Homo sapiens: one gene and its partner. The protein of the gene in region 2 purifies or fractionates together with the protein of the main gene of each other region. This does not show direct contact. Each region holds a gene or a part of one and is shown on either strand. Other genes may lie near its edges.

Region 1 (5,026 bases), on a different chromosome or scaffold from region 2:
CAGATGTTCTTACGAAGATGGGCACCAGGATGCCAACACCCAGGGGCCAGTGGGGCCCAGGCTGTCCAGGCTGGTGTGGCTGTGCCGTCCCTGCAGGTCCTGCCTGCTAACCTCAGTCCTGTTCCTGCTCACAAGTGGGGGAAGGGGGACCCGAAGTGGAGGGGACAAGGGCCCAGCCAAACCCTCAGTCCCAGTTCCTTCCACTCCTGGCCAGTTCCCATCTGTGTCCCTGGCATATGAAAAGGCCGAGAGTGACATCATGCACCTGCGTCCACGCAACCCAAAGCGTGACAGATTGGTCAACGAGCCCCTGGCTGCCTACTCCTACTTCCAGATTGGTGGGTGCCCGTGGGCCGGGGAGCCTGGAGGTGGGGGGCTCTGCGCTGGGCTGCTCGCCTGCCCCAGGCCCTGCCTTGGGCTCCGGCTGGTTCTGGACCTCAGTGTCTGCATTTGGTCCTGGGTCTCCGTTGTCCTCCGTGTCCCTCTCTGTTTGTGACAGTCTCTCTGGTTCTGCTGTGTCCCTGCTCTCTCTCTGACCTTGCTCTCCATGACCCTGTCTCTGAGTTGTTGCCTATTTCTGTCTTTTTGGGTCCTGGATGTGTCTTTTTCTCTCTGTCCCTGCCTCTGTCTCTCTGTCCCTGCTTCTCTCTCTGCCTCTGTGTCTCTGTCACTGTTTCTGTGTCCCTGGCTCTGTGTGTCCTTGACCTTGTGTATCTGTGTCCCTGTCTCTCTTCCCGTGTCCCTGTCTGTGTGTCCTTGACCTTTGTGTATCTGTGTCCCTGTCTCTCCATGTCCCTCTCTTCCTGTGTCCCTGTCTCTGTGTCCATCTCTGTCTCCCTGTGTCCCCTTGTCTCTCTCCAGGTGCCATTCAGTCCTTTGCTGGCTTCACTGACTACTTCACGGCAATGGCCCAGGAGGGCTGGTTCCCACTGCTGTGCGTGGGGCTGCGGGCGCAGTGGGAGGACCACCACCTACAAGATCTGCAGGACAGCTACGGCCAGGAGTGGGTGAGCCCTGCCCCGCCCCATCCCATCCCTGGGCTCCCTCCTTCCCAGGGCAACTTGCCTTGTGTGCGGCCCACTTGTTCCTCCACGTGTGACTGAGTTCAGCCAGAGCATCCCGGACCCCCAGACTCCCTGCCAGTTCGGGGGGGCAAGGGCCTTTCCCACCATCTCCAGCTCCAAACTCCTGCTTCTGATGATCGCAACTGCAGATGGGTGTCTCTGCCCTGACACTAATGCATCATCTCAGATGTGGAACCAGGCCCCTATTCTGCTATTTTCCCTACAGCATCACTCCCACAGGGTATTTGCACATGTGGTCTATTTTAATGAAGGTTTGGAGCACAGTGAGGCTAGATCTGGCCAGCAGATGTGTTTAGTTCACCTGTAGAGTTACATACAGACGAGGATACTTCCCTTAAACATTTACTATCATGGTTAAGGTAGACACTGAAGCCAGACTGCCTGGACTTATGGTCTGGTACTGCTTCTCACAAGCTGTGTAACCCTGGGCAGGTTGCTTTGCCTCTCTGTGCCTGTTTTCTCACCTGCAAAGTGGAGAGAATATCAAAGTCTACCTCAGTGGTTTTCAGTTTGCTCCCAGACCAGCAGCATCACCATCTCCTGGGAACATGTTTGCAGTGCAAATTCTCAGGCTCTATCCCAGCCCTCTGGGAGCCCTTGCTGGGATTCTCATGCATGTTCAAGTTCCAGCACCACTGATTTACCTCCTAGGGTTACCCAGCGGATTAAATGAGCTAATGCACGTGCAACACTCGGCACCTGGAGCAGTCAGTGATCCCCACAGTTAGCTGGTATTAGGAGTTGTGTTGCCAGGCATGGTGGCACATGCTTGTAATTCCAGCTACTTGGGAGGCTAAGGCAGGAGAATCTCCTGAACCTGGGATTCGGAAGTTGCAGTGAGCTGAGATTGCACCACTGCACTCCAGCCTGGGTGACAGAGCGAGATTCCATCTCAAAAAAAAAAGTAGCTGTGTTGAAGAAATGGGCTGCATAGTGGCTGCCCCCTTTAAATGGGGCATCTGCCCTCTTTTCCCAAAGGCCCGCGGTGACTGCCTCACCTATTTTTGCCATCTGCCTGGCCCCTGGAGTCACTGGACTTTGCAAATCCCATCTGAGGATTTCAATTCCCCTTTCCCAGGCCCTTTCTTTTGGGTGCCTCCCCCCTTTCACTATGAAAGCAGTCGGCCCAGCCTACAGTTTTCCCGGCCACTGTCATCCAAGCTCTGCTAGGCTGAGGTTTCTGGGCCCCACGTTCTGGGGTCCTGCACACCTGGCAGACCCTGCCTCTCTCCTTCCCCCCACCCCCACACTCTGATGCAAGGCAGAGAGAGCATTTAGGGGTTCACGGCCCTGGGACCCTATGCCCGGTGGGCTGCAGAGGCTCTCCGCCGGGACTCAGGCTGGACTCAGGCTGTTTCCGTTTGCCCCTGGCCTGCAGACATTCGGGCAGCGCCTGTACCAGCAGTACACCTGCTACACCGTGTTCTTCATCAGCATTGAGGTGTGCCAGATCGCCGATGTCCTCATCCGCAAGACGCGCCGTCTCTCTGCCTTCCAGCAAGGCTTCTTCAGGTGTCCCTGGCTGGCCCTCTTCCTGCCCTCCAACCCCTGGTCCCAACTCCCATCAGATCCTGACTGTGGTTTAGAACAGCCGGCAAATGCCAGCGGGTGCCAGTGCCAGATGGTGACATGCCAAAAAAACCTTTCTAACTGGCCAATAACTCCCCCCACGGCCCCCTCCACATTTCACTAAAGGGGTGGTGCTGAGAGGCCCGGGCCACTCCAGTGTTCAGTGTGTAGAACACCTCCCTGCTGCTGCTGACATCTGACCTACTTTGACCCACAGTATCCTGATTTCCATCACGTCCCCAATTCCTAATGGCCTGTCCCATTCTGCCCACCCCCAGGAATAAGATCCTGGTGATCGCCATCGTGTTCCAGGTCTGCATCGGCTGCTTCCTGTGCTACTGCCCCGGCATGCCCAACATCTTCAACTTCATGCCCATTCGGTGAGAGGCTGTGAGGGGCAAGGACAGGGAGGGGGCTGTAGGGCACAGGCCTGGGATGGCCTTCACCTTGCCATGTGCCTTCAGGTTCCAGTGGTGGCTGGTCCCCCTGCCCTACGGCATCCTCATCTTCGTCTATGATGAGATCCGGAAGCTTGGAGTTCGCTGTTGCCCAGGGAGTGAGTGTGGAGACTGGGAGCCTGGGGGCAGGGGACTGAAACGTTTGAGCAGCTGCACCCACCTTTGATCCTCAACACTTGGCCTCTAAGCCCTTGACCCTCCATAGCAACCAGCACTGACCTCTGAGCCCCTGGCCCTGCCTAAGTGGCACCCCCAGCACTGAGTCTCCTTTCTCCCTCTCTCTCCCAGGCTGGTGGGACCAGGAACTCTACTATTAGAGGGACGACTGCCTTCAAGCATCCCTGCAACTGCCACAGCAGGTGGGGGCAGGGCTCGTGGGACCCTCTGGACAGCCACCAAGATATCTGAGCAACCAAGAGTCCCAGCCCCACCAGTATCTGCTTCTGTAGCCCACGGCACCCCAAACTTGGAGGGACCTGCCCACTCCCCTCCCCCATTCCCAAGGTTCGCACCTCCTGGAGCAGCAGCGCCTGGGCAGTCCTCTGGGCTGGCCTCGGGAAAGCCGCCACCTGTGGTGGCGGTGGGGCTCTGACAGGGAGTACAGCTGACCGCTTCTGGAGGGTGTTTCTGTTCTTAGGACTCCAGTCCAGGCTGGACGGCTGCCTGAGGGCCCTTCGTTAAAGACACGCTTGTGTCCTGGGCGATGGTAATAAAACCAGCTCATGCTGACTGTGCTGTATCTGGTGCCAGGCACTGTCCTCAGCGTCTCTCATTAGTGCTTGTGATCTCCCACAGTCCTGTACATGGGGGCTGTTTATCCAGGGCTGCACCTCCAGTGCCTAGTACACAGCCTGGCACATAGTAGGTCCTCAATAAACCTGCCTTGGGGAAATGATTCCTATTCCTTTGCCCAGGGTCATGGCATCTAAACGCAAGCTGGGCCGTGGCGATAGGCACCCCCTACCACCTCTGGGCTTTCTCTGTTCTCAGCACCCTTCTCCCTCCTGGAGGCTCCCAGACACAAGGGGGCCCAAGTCATTTCCACATCAAGCATCCCCCACCCCCCAGCGGTGTCTCCTTTCTGAGCCTACCTGCTTACTCCTCTGTCCCGGCAATGGCCAGTTCCTGAACAACTCCTGGAGGTCCCCTCCTCACACCCCTCACCTGAAAGGTTAACCCCATCCCCCTACCTCCCATCTCTGCCGCTCCTTTCCCAGCCCCTCTGTTCACCTCTCTTCCTCTTTCTTATGTGGCTTTCTCTGGCTAGGGCCTGGGCTTCTCCTTCCTTGTGACCACAGCCCCCCAGTCCCCCATGGCTTCAGTTGTTTCTGCAGTGAGACCCACCTCTGTCCCCAGCTTCCCCCAGTGTTGGTGACCTACACTGGCCTCTTCATCACCCCCCATGCCTGTACCCATGCACTGACCCAATCTGATAGTCCCACTGTCCCATCAGTGTGGTCCCTTCTCCCTTGGAAACGTGGTGAGCCCTCGGGCTTACAAGCCCCAAACTCCAGTTATCCTGGAACTCTTTGCTCCTCCCTTACCTGTTAGCGCCCCCTGCCGGTAAATAAATACACACAGCCACTGATCACCAACACCTGGGCTTGGCTTCTAGTCACTCTCCTAACCCCACAAAGCCCTGCCCTGGTCCAGCCCTGGCCTCGTGGCCTCAGCTTTCCCATTTCAGACAACAGCCATGCAGAGCTTCCTAAAGCCAAATCTGACCCTGTCCTTCCTCTGCCTAGAGCTCTCCTTGGTTCCCAAAGCCTCCTGTGATCTGACCCCTGCCAGCTTCTGTAGTCTTACAAGTCCCCTTGAACTCATTCCAACCAGTTATGTTCCCTTGGGAAAAACAGGCCCCCTCTCTGACCTCAAGACCATTACCTCTGCCTTGCCCCAATCACTCATTCTTTA
Region 2 (8,193 bases):
TCGGCCTCCCAAAGTGCTGGGATTACAGGCGTGAGCCACGGCGCCCGGCTGACATTCTTTATAATTGTGATAATGACAGGCAGATCAGCTTTTGGTTATATTTGTATTTAAATTCTCCACAGACGGTTGCTCTTTTATTGATGGCACATCCCCCCTCCACCCAGTCCCATGGCCCCCTATTCCCTCCCCACCCCACTCCCACCCCATTTGACTGTAAATTCCTGCAAGGTGGGGACGGCTGTGCAGCCCCCTGTTGTACAGTGCCCACTGCACAAGCGCAGTGGTTTGCAGGCCAAGGCCCCAGGGAGATCGCCTTAGGATGTCCTCCCTTTTCCTCTATGGGAGGCCAGATTTTCTTCCTACATTTCAAACAAAGCAATACATCACAACAGACTGAGTACAGAAACAGGTAAGATAATCCAGCTGTCTTGGGAAGCCAGATATTAGAGAGATTTGCAACATTTCTTTGTAAAACAATGTCACTCTTCTCCATTTAAAACTTATTTGGAAAATACAAGTTATTTTTCATAAAATTACATTATATGTGTTAATATGCAAGGGTTTATTATCATTTTAAAAAGTGTTAGCAGATTTTAAAGATTTCTCAGTTTTAATTTCTAATGAAGGAAATATTGATATCTCACATAATAAACACTGTTTGGGGTCCTCAGTGATTTTTAAGAGAGGAAACGTGTGAACAGAGTGTGTGAGTTGTACTCAGGCACTGCGTTACGTATGGCAGGTGCTCATGTATGCTTGTGACACTCATGAGGGACTGACTGAATAGGTAGCTTTCAGCTGCTCCTAGGATTTGCAAGCTGAGGCTGGGGTGGAGGGGAGGGAGAAGGTGCCTGTTGATAGTGGGCCCAGTACCGGGAAGGTGGGACTTGCCAGGGTCTAGGAGCAGCGTTGGCTCTCATGGCAACACCGACTGGGGAACCTGGGTCTCAGGCATTGGGGCTGGGCATAAGTGTGATGTGCCATGTGGGCTTCAAGCAGCTCACGCTATCCAGTCCCCCTTAGTGCTGAAGGGCAGGAACAACTGTCTAAATCTCCCTCTCTGTGAGAGGAACTGAGCAGAATGTTTTTCTAGAAACCTCTGGCTGTCAAATCACTGGGTGTGGGCTCGACACAGAGCACTGCGGCCTCAGTAGACAGATTGAGGCTGCAGGTACCTCTCCCTGCTCTGCCCTGACCAGCTATGCGACCGCCGGCAAGGCACTTAACTGCCAGCTTACTCAACCATATGGTGAGGATGAGATAAAATGTCCGTGGAGTGCCTGGCACATGCTGGGTGTGCAGCACATTAGTGACTCCATTAGTAAGATGTCATTAATAATAAATACTCAAAAGAAGTAGGCTGGGAGGAGGGGCTAAAGAGGAAGGGTCCTTGAGGGAGTACTTCCTGGTGCTCGATGAGTGACAGTTGAAGCTTGGCATAGATCATGGTTTCTCAGCCTCTGCACTAATAATGTTTTGGGCCAGACAATTCATTGTTGTGAGGGCTGTCCTGTGCATTGTAGGATGTGAAGCAGCTTCCCTGGCCTCTACCCACTAGATGCTGGAAGGGAAGCACTCTCTCCCTGGTCTTAACAACCAAAAACCAAAAATGTCTCCAGACATTGCCAAGTGTCCCCTGGAGGGCAAAATTGCCCCTGTTGAGAACCATTGGTGTAGAAACTTTCCTGACAAGGGCTCCACCACAGGACACCGGCTTCCCTGCGGTTTCCCCAGAAAGACATCATACCAGCCACATGCACACAGATTGGGCTCACTCATTGCAGAAAGAATTCTGCCAAGAGATTCTGCTTCCAAGAGAACAAGAGGCCTCCTGACTTGGATCCTCTTTTCTGAGGAACCCTCTTGCTAATAGTGGCCACTTCTCTCAGCATTTGCACAAACTAGGCCCCGGGGAAAGAAGCAGGCTGATCAGGACAATGAGATTGCTCAAGGAAAATCTGGACAATACCCAGAAGCCTGGGGGAGGCCATCCCTCCCTTCAACCTCTATCTCAGCACTGACAGCTTCCAATTCCCATGGCTCCATTGCAAAAACAGTCCTGGCCAATCCACAGTAGAATGGATAAAGGAAGTGTGGCATGGTCCCGCAGTGGAATGCTACAGCAGTGAGAATGAATGAGCCTCAACTCCACGAAACTGCATGGTTGACTTTCACAAACATAATGTCGAACGAAAGAAGCCAGACGCAAAAGAGCAACTGATGTGTTTCTATTAATGAAAAATCTCCCCAAAGGAAAAAATCATATATGTTAAGGCTCAAGGGGCACACAAGGAAGGCTTTGGGGTACTGGTTCAGTTTGTGAGAACTCATTGAGGATTTATGATAGAGGCCCTTTTCTAGAAGTGTGTTATAAACTTCATTAAAAAGTAAACAAACAAATACAACATTCCGGGGCAAAGGGCAGGAAAGGCCCTTTAGCAAAATCACTATGAACCAAGGGAATAAAGATTACCAGCAATTTTACCTGTATGGCTCTAAATTATTATGTAAGGGTCATTTTTGGATGTGGCTTTATAAATGAGATGATGTGTCAAAAATAATTAGTATAGTGCTTGGCACAGAAAATACTTAGTGAATGGCAATAATTAATACTGCTACTCAGTTATTAACTGGCCTATGAAGTAAAATAGTCAAATACAAAGGAACAGCCTTTTTCTTAAAGGGGAAAAAAGCTTCTGAAATTTTTAGGTACATCCCGTTAGGGAATTTCTAATTCTCAAAGTTGTCGGAGCTCTCTCCAAGGCTAGTCTTAGAGAAAAGAAAAATCTCAGACTCTACCTTAGCGTTACTAGCTCCTGACCAGTAACCAGTACCAAAACAAATTCCCAAACACCTGTCTAGTCTGGCCAAATTGTTCAATTAACTGATCCGTCATTTATTGGTCCACTGCTTAGCCTGGAAGCTGGGCTCCACTCTACTACCTTCCTGATAAGGCATTTGATCTGTCTTTCGCCATCAATCTAGTTTGTGAATTTACAAACAAAACAGGCAGGACGGCTGTTGGATTCTTCAGCCTCAGACTAAAATTTTGGCAGCAAAACAAAGTCTAGAAATTGTGCAATGATATCTCTACTTTAGACCTGACTGGAAATAGAACTCTCATAAATTCCCCTCTCTTCTGAGAGAGGCAGGCAATTAGACAACCCCAACCCGACAGAGCATTTCATTGCAAGCCTGGCTCCCCGGTTGCAAATTAGATGCCACATTAACTCTCAGGAAGATCTGAATCGCTTTCATATCATTTGCCGCTGAATAACTTTTAGCATGACTGTTTCCATATCAGATACGCAAGAGACTTCACTGCTAGCTGCAGGCACTCTTAGAAGACTTTTAATCCGAGGATGATTTTCTAAAATTTCATTTCTGTTTACAAACGGCTACGTGTCCCTGTGAACCTGTGAGGTCGTGTATAGAACCACCTGGCACGCTCTGAAGCAAGCTCTGTCCCATACAGTCAGAAACCCCTGGATTCTTTGTGACACACGTTTTAAAAAGAAAAGTTCATGCCCATCTCTGGAGAAAAGTCAGGCTCTTACCTGGTTTCAGGCTTTGTCCAAGGGCACTTGATTGGATAAAGATGCATAAAACCAACAGAATGGAGAAACACAGGGGACTTGTGTCCATTTCTCCGTTTCACCCGGGGTCCAGGCTTTCTTGGTAATTTCTGAAGCCAAAGAGACCACAATGCCTATTAGATACTTTGTTAGGGAAGACTGCCCATTAATAATTAACCTCTCAACATGTTATCCACTGTTCAGACCCTTTCTTTACTGCCCCCAACTGCAAATCTAATTATATCTATTTTAAAAAGGTCGATTTACAGAAGTGCTTCTTATCCTGACACATTTTGAGAATAAAATACCTTGTTATGTATTCTTACCTTTTGGGGCCAAGGTCAGAGTTCCAAATTAATCAACTTAAAGCTACTGTGTTGTGTTTGGAAATTCTGCCAAAGGTCGGGGTAGGTGGCTTCCACGTGGCTGCCTAAGCCTCCCTGTGACAGCGCTGCAAGGGGGATGCTGGCTCAGGAAAGTGGTGTTTCAAATTGCAGCCTAAGCCCAAAGAAAAAGAAAAGGGCCCTGCCACGCAGAGAGCCCCCAGAGGGTCCAAATTTCTGTTGGGTTCAGTGAAATTGGTGATGCTTGTGGTCAAAGTGTGGTGCAGAAAACCCTTCACCCCCGTGTCAAAAGGAGCTGACGAAGAAGCAAAGATGCCCTTGCCAAGTGACCCATTGAGAGGTGATCCTAGAGTAAACACACTTCTTCCCCCTCTGTGTTCATTAATGTTCCAGCTGTGTAGAGGACTGAAAAGTAAGGCCACTCAGCAAAATCAGGTAGGGAAAAGGCGACCATAGATGGCTTTTGTGATATTTTTGGACCTCTAGTTTTACTTTAACTTTCTTCATTTGTTCAACATTTATATATTTTGGTATGCCTACTAGGTGCCAAGCACTGTTGCAGGCACGTGGGGTATACAAGTCCTTATGTATCAGTGGAGGTTCTTACCTTCTGGAGTTGGATAACGGACAGTAGACATAATAAAGAAGAGATTTCTGGCCAGGAGCGGTGGCTCACTCCTGTAATCACAGCACTTTGGGAGGCGAGGAGGGCGGATCACGAGGTCAGGAGTTCGAGACCAGCCTGACCAACATGGTGAAACCCCATCTGTACTAAAAATACAAAAGTTAGCTGGGCGTGGAGGTGAGTGCCTGTAATCCCAGCTACTCAGGAAGCTGAGGCAGGAGAATCGCTTGAACCTGGGAGGCGGAGGTTGCAGTGAACTGAGATCGCGCCATTGTACTCCAGCCTGGGCGACACAGAGAGACTCCGTCTCAAAAAAAAAAAAAAAAAAATTAGGTAGACTGGTAGAATGTAATGGGAACCACTACAAGAAAAGCAGGGGGTTGGGGAGAAGGTAGGGATTTTAAGCAGAGTGGTTAGAGTGAATTGCATTGGGAAGTTAAACTTTCAGCAAAGGTTTGAAGGAAGTGAAGGAGTTGCCCCTGTGGACGTCTTGGGGAGGAGAGCTTCGGGCAGTCTGTGCAAAGGCCCTGAGGTAGGAGTATGCCTGGTGTGCTCCAGGAATAGCAAGGAGGCCAATGAATGGGGAGACATTGTAAGGACTTTGACTTTTATGCATTGACACATGGGGGGCGACTCTGAGCAGAAGGGTGATATGATTTGTATTATAGTTTTAAAATATCACTCTGGTTTGCAAGTGAGCCAGGGTGCAGTGGGGAGATCTGTTAGAAGGCTATTACAGTGGCCCAGTGAGAGGTGATGGTGGCGTGGCCCAGCATGGTAAAGGGCAACTGCGGAGTGGTGGATGGGTGGTGGATATATTTTGAAGGTAGAGCCCACAGGATTTTCTGACTGCTGAGTTGTGAGATGTGGGAGAAAGAGAGGAGTTAAGGATGACTTCCAGGTTTTTTGGCTTGAACAAGCAGATTAATGGGGTTGCTGTCAGCTGAGAAGGGGAAGCTGTGAGTGAAGCAGGTCTGTTGGGGGAAGATTAGAGATTCAGCCTTGGCCACGTGGGGCTTTGAGATGGCTCTTAGACATCCAAGTGGAAACGTTAAGCGGGCAAAATTAGATAACATGGTAATTATTGCCTGGACGAGCCTCATTCAAAGGGCCTTCTGAAGCCACCACCAGACTTGGACGATCTTGACCCAGTCTAAAGCTGTGTTCTGTCCTATGACTGTACCTTCCTCCCAAGCCCCGAAGCTTGCGGACCATCCCGTCAGATATACAATTTCTTTTTCTTTTTCTTTTTTTTTTTTGAGATGGAATCTTGCTCTGTCGCCCAGGCTGGAGTGCAGTGGCGCGATCTCGGTTCACTGCAACTTCCACCTCCCAGGTTCAAGCGATTCTAGTGCTTCAGCCTTCAGAGTAGGTGGGACTACAGGTGCCCACCACCATGCCTGGCTAATTTTTGTATTTTTAGTAGAGACGGGGTTTTACCATGTTGGTCAGGCTGGTCTCTAACTCCTGACCTTGTGATCCACCCACCTCGGCCTCCCAAAGTGCTGGGATTACAGGCGTGAGTCACCGTGCCCATCAGATATACAATTTCTGAGCAAGGACTTCTGCCTTGGATACTTGGCTGGCTCCTGCACAGTTAAGCAGAATCTGAAAGTTCCACTTTTTTTCCTATAAAGCTGGCACGTAAGACCAGCTGGCTACCCATCTCGGGCTCCTCTCCCCTGTGCCCACCCTCATCTCCTCTCCTCTGGGTACTGCCAGTAACCACCGCCACTCCCCATTTTATTCGGGACACAAACTCATCAAAAGACACCAGTGAATCCAAGTGCCTCTGAAATACCAACCGTGTGCCCCCACCCGCCCCCCAAATTTCTGCAGAGTACACTTTCTTACCACTTTCTACGTGGTAAGAACACTTTCAACATGGGAAGAAGCCTTCAAGATTGTTTCTAGCTCTTGTAGTTCCTTTACTTGCACCACCCCAAATTCCTCTAACATCATCTCATGCCAACTCAAATTCTATAAGGCTCTCCTGGAAAATGACAAGGAGGAGTGGGTACCTGTCCCCTTTCAGGGTGTTGTCTGCTTTCACCTCTACCTAAGCTCTTCCAGCCTGCCCCATCACCGGGTCTGACCTTCCAGTGGTGGTTTTAATGCACAAGCTCTGTTGTGTTTTCTTGAAGCTGACCAGGGAGGCTACTGGCAGGGAAGAGGGGAGGACTTCACAGAGTATGAGATTTCCTGAACTGGGGGGGTCCTAGGCCTATCTACTTGCTGTATATAATATTATATAACCTTAATGAGTTCAATCTCCTCACCTATAAAATGGGGACAACATGTATCTGAGATAATATTTTGAGATATCAACTTATTTTTCTCCCAAACTGTCTCCCTTCCACTTAAGAGGGGCAAAGTAGAGAGAAGGCTACAAATCTTTTGTCTTCCAAAAATATAGGACCTTAGGGCAAGTGAATTTTATTTTATTTTATATTATTTTATTTTATTTATTTTAGAGACAGGGTCTTCCTATGTTGCCCAGGCTGGCCATAAACTCCTGGGCTCAAGTGATCCTCCTGCCTTGGCCTCCCAAAGTGTGGGCAGGTGAATTCTAGCCAACAAAGAAAAGCAAAAGACTAACATTTCTTGAGGGGATGTGAAGGGAGAAGGAACCCCTCACCTTGCCATCACTAGAAAGACATTCTCTTGGGCTTTGCAGGTGGTGTGGAAGGGGGAGGTTTGTCTATGGGTCTGAGAGCAGAGGGGACAGTACCTTGCTTCCCAGAAATCCTGCTGGAAGAGAAGAACCCAGGGAGGAAATGGCTGTGTTGGCACATGGGCAAAAGATATACCTGGCTTGATGTAGGGTGGGAGAGCAGTGAGTCTCTGGGGCCAGCAGGTCATGTTGATGGGAGGATGGGCCCCTCAGTGGCCACCAATGTGGACTGATGACAGAGGACTAGGTCACACTCCCCTGACCCCATGCCTGGCTATTGTATTTGTCCAGAACTATGGCATAACTACTGGGGTTGGGGGTGGGGTGGGGAGAAGAAATCCAGAAGGCCTGAAAATAGGGGTTAAGAGTCAGGAATTTAGATGGGTTACAGAGAATAGAGAAATTTATTGCACATCAGAATCTCTGGACTGAAATTAATACCTCTAGGAAAAGAGGTATGCCATGAATATTAGAGATTTGTGTGTAAGGTGTCAAGCCAAGTGCCTGGTTCATAGTAGAGGGTCAATAAATTATAATGACCTATTTTGTGGGCAATATACTTAGTGGTCAAGGGTCCATGCTTTGAGGCTGGGTGCAGTGGGCAGTGGCTCACACTTGTAATCCCAGTGCTTTGGGAGGCTGAGGCAGGAGGATCACTTGAGGCCAGGAGTTTGCGACTAGCTTGGGTAACATAGCAAGACCCCATCTATATAAACATAAAAACCAAAAAATTAGCCTGGTATGGTGGCACACACCTGTAGTCCTAGGTACTTGGGAGGCTGAGGCAGGGATATTACTTGAACCCAGGAGGTGGAGGCTGCAGTGAGCTATGATCACACCACTGCACTCCAGCCTGGGTGACAGAGTGAGACCCTATCTCTAAAAGAAAAAAAAAAAAAGAGTCCAGCCTTGGGAATCCGACAGATACAGGCTTGAATTCCTAGTCTGTCACTTGTGCTTACTAGCTGAGTGAAC

Evidence for each region. Proteins that work in one complex are often made in the same cells at the same time.
Region 1: the proteins of LIPC (region 2) and ATP4A purify together in Homo sapiens (affinity purification with mass spectrometry; 2 studies listed by BioGRID and IntAct, with this or other methods). This does not show direct contact.

Annotation. Positions count from the first base shown.
Region 1 is NC_000019.10:35,549,018-35,554,043, reverse strand, and holds the end of ATP4A (potassium-transporting ATPase alpha chain 1), read left to right. Parts: intron 1-214; coding exon 215-338; intron 339-861; coding exon 862-1,007; intron 1,008-2,463; coding exon 2,464-2,597; intron 2,598-2,932; coding exon 2,933-3,034; intron 3,035-3,118; coding exon 3,119-3,210; intron 3,211-3,400; coding exon 3,401-3,429; 3' UTR 3,430-4,013; downstream 4,014-5,026. UniProt on the Homo sapiens protein: The catalytic subunit of the gastric H(+)/K(+) ATPase pump which transports H(+) ions in exchange for K(+) ions across the apical membrane of parietal cells.
Region 2 is NC_000015.10:58,427,485-58,435,677, reverse strand, and holds the start of LIPC (hepatic triacylglycerol lipase precursor), read right to left. Parts: upstream 3,688-8,193; 5' UTR 3,646-3,687; coding exon 3,558-3,645; intron 778-3,557; exon of another isoform or gene 1-777. UniProt on the Homo sapiens protein: Catalyzes the hydrolysis of triglycerides and phospholipids present in circulating plasma lipoproteins, including chylomicrons, intermediate density lipoproteins (IDL), low density lipoproteins (LDL) of large size and high density lipoproteins (HDL), releasing free fatty acids (FFA) and smaller lipoprotein particles.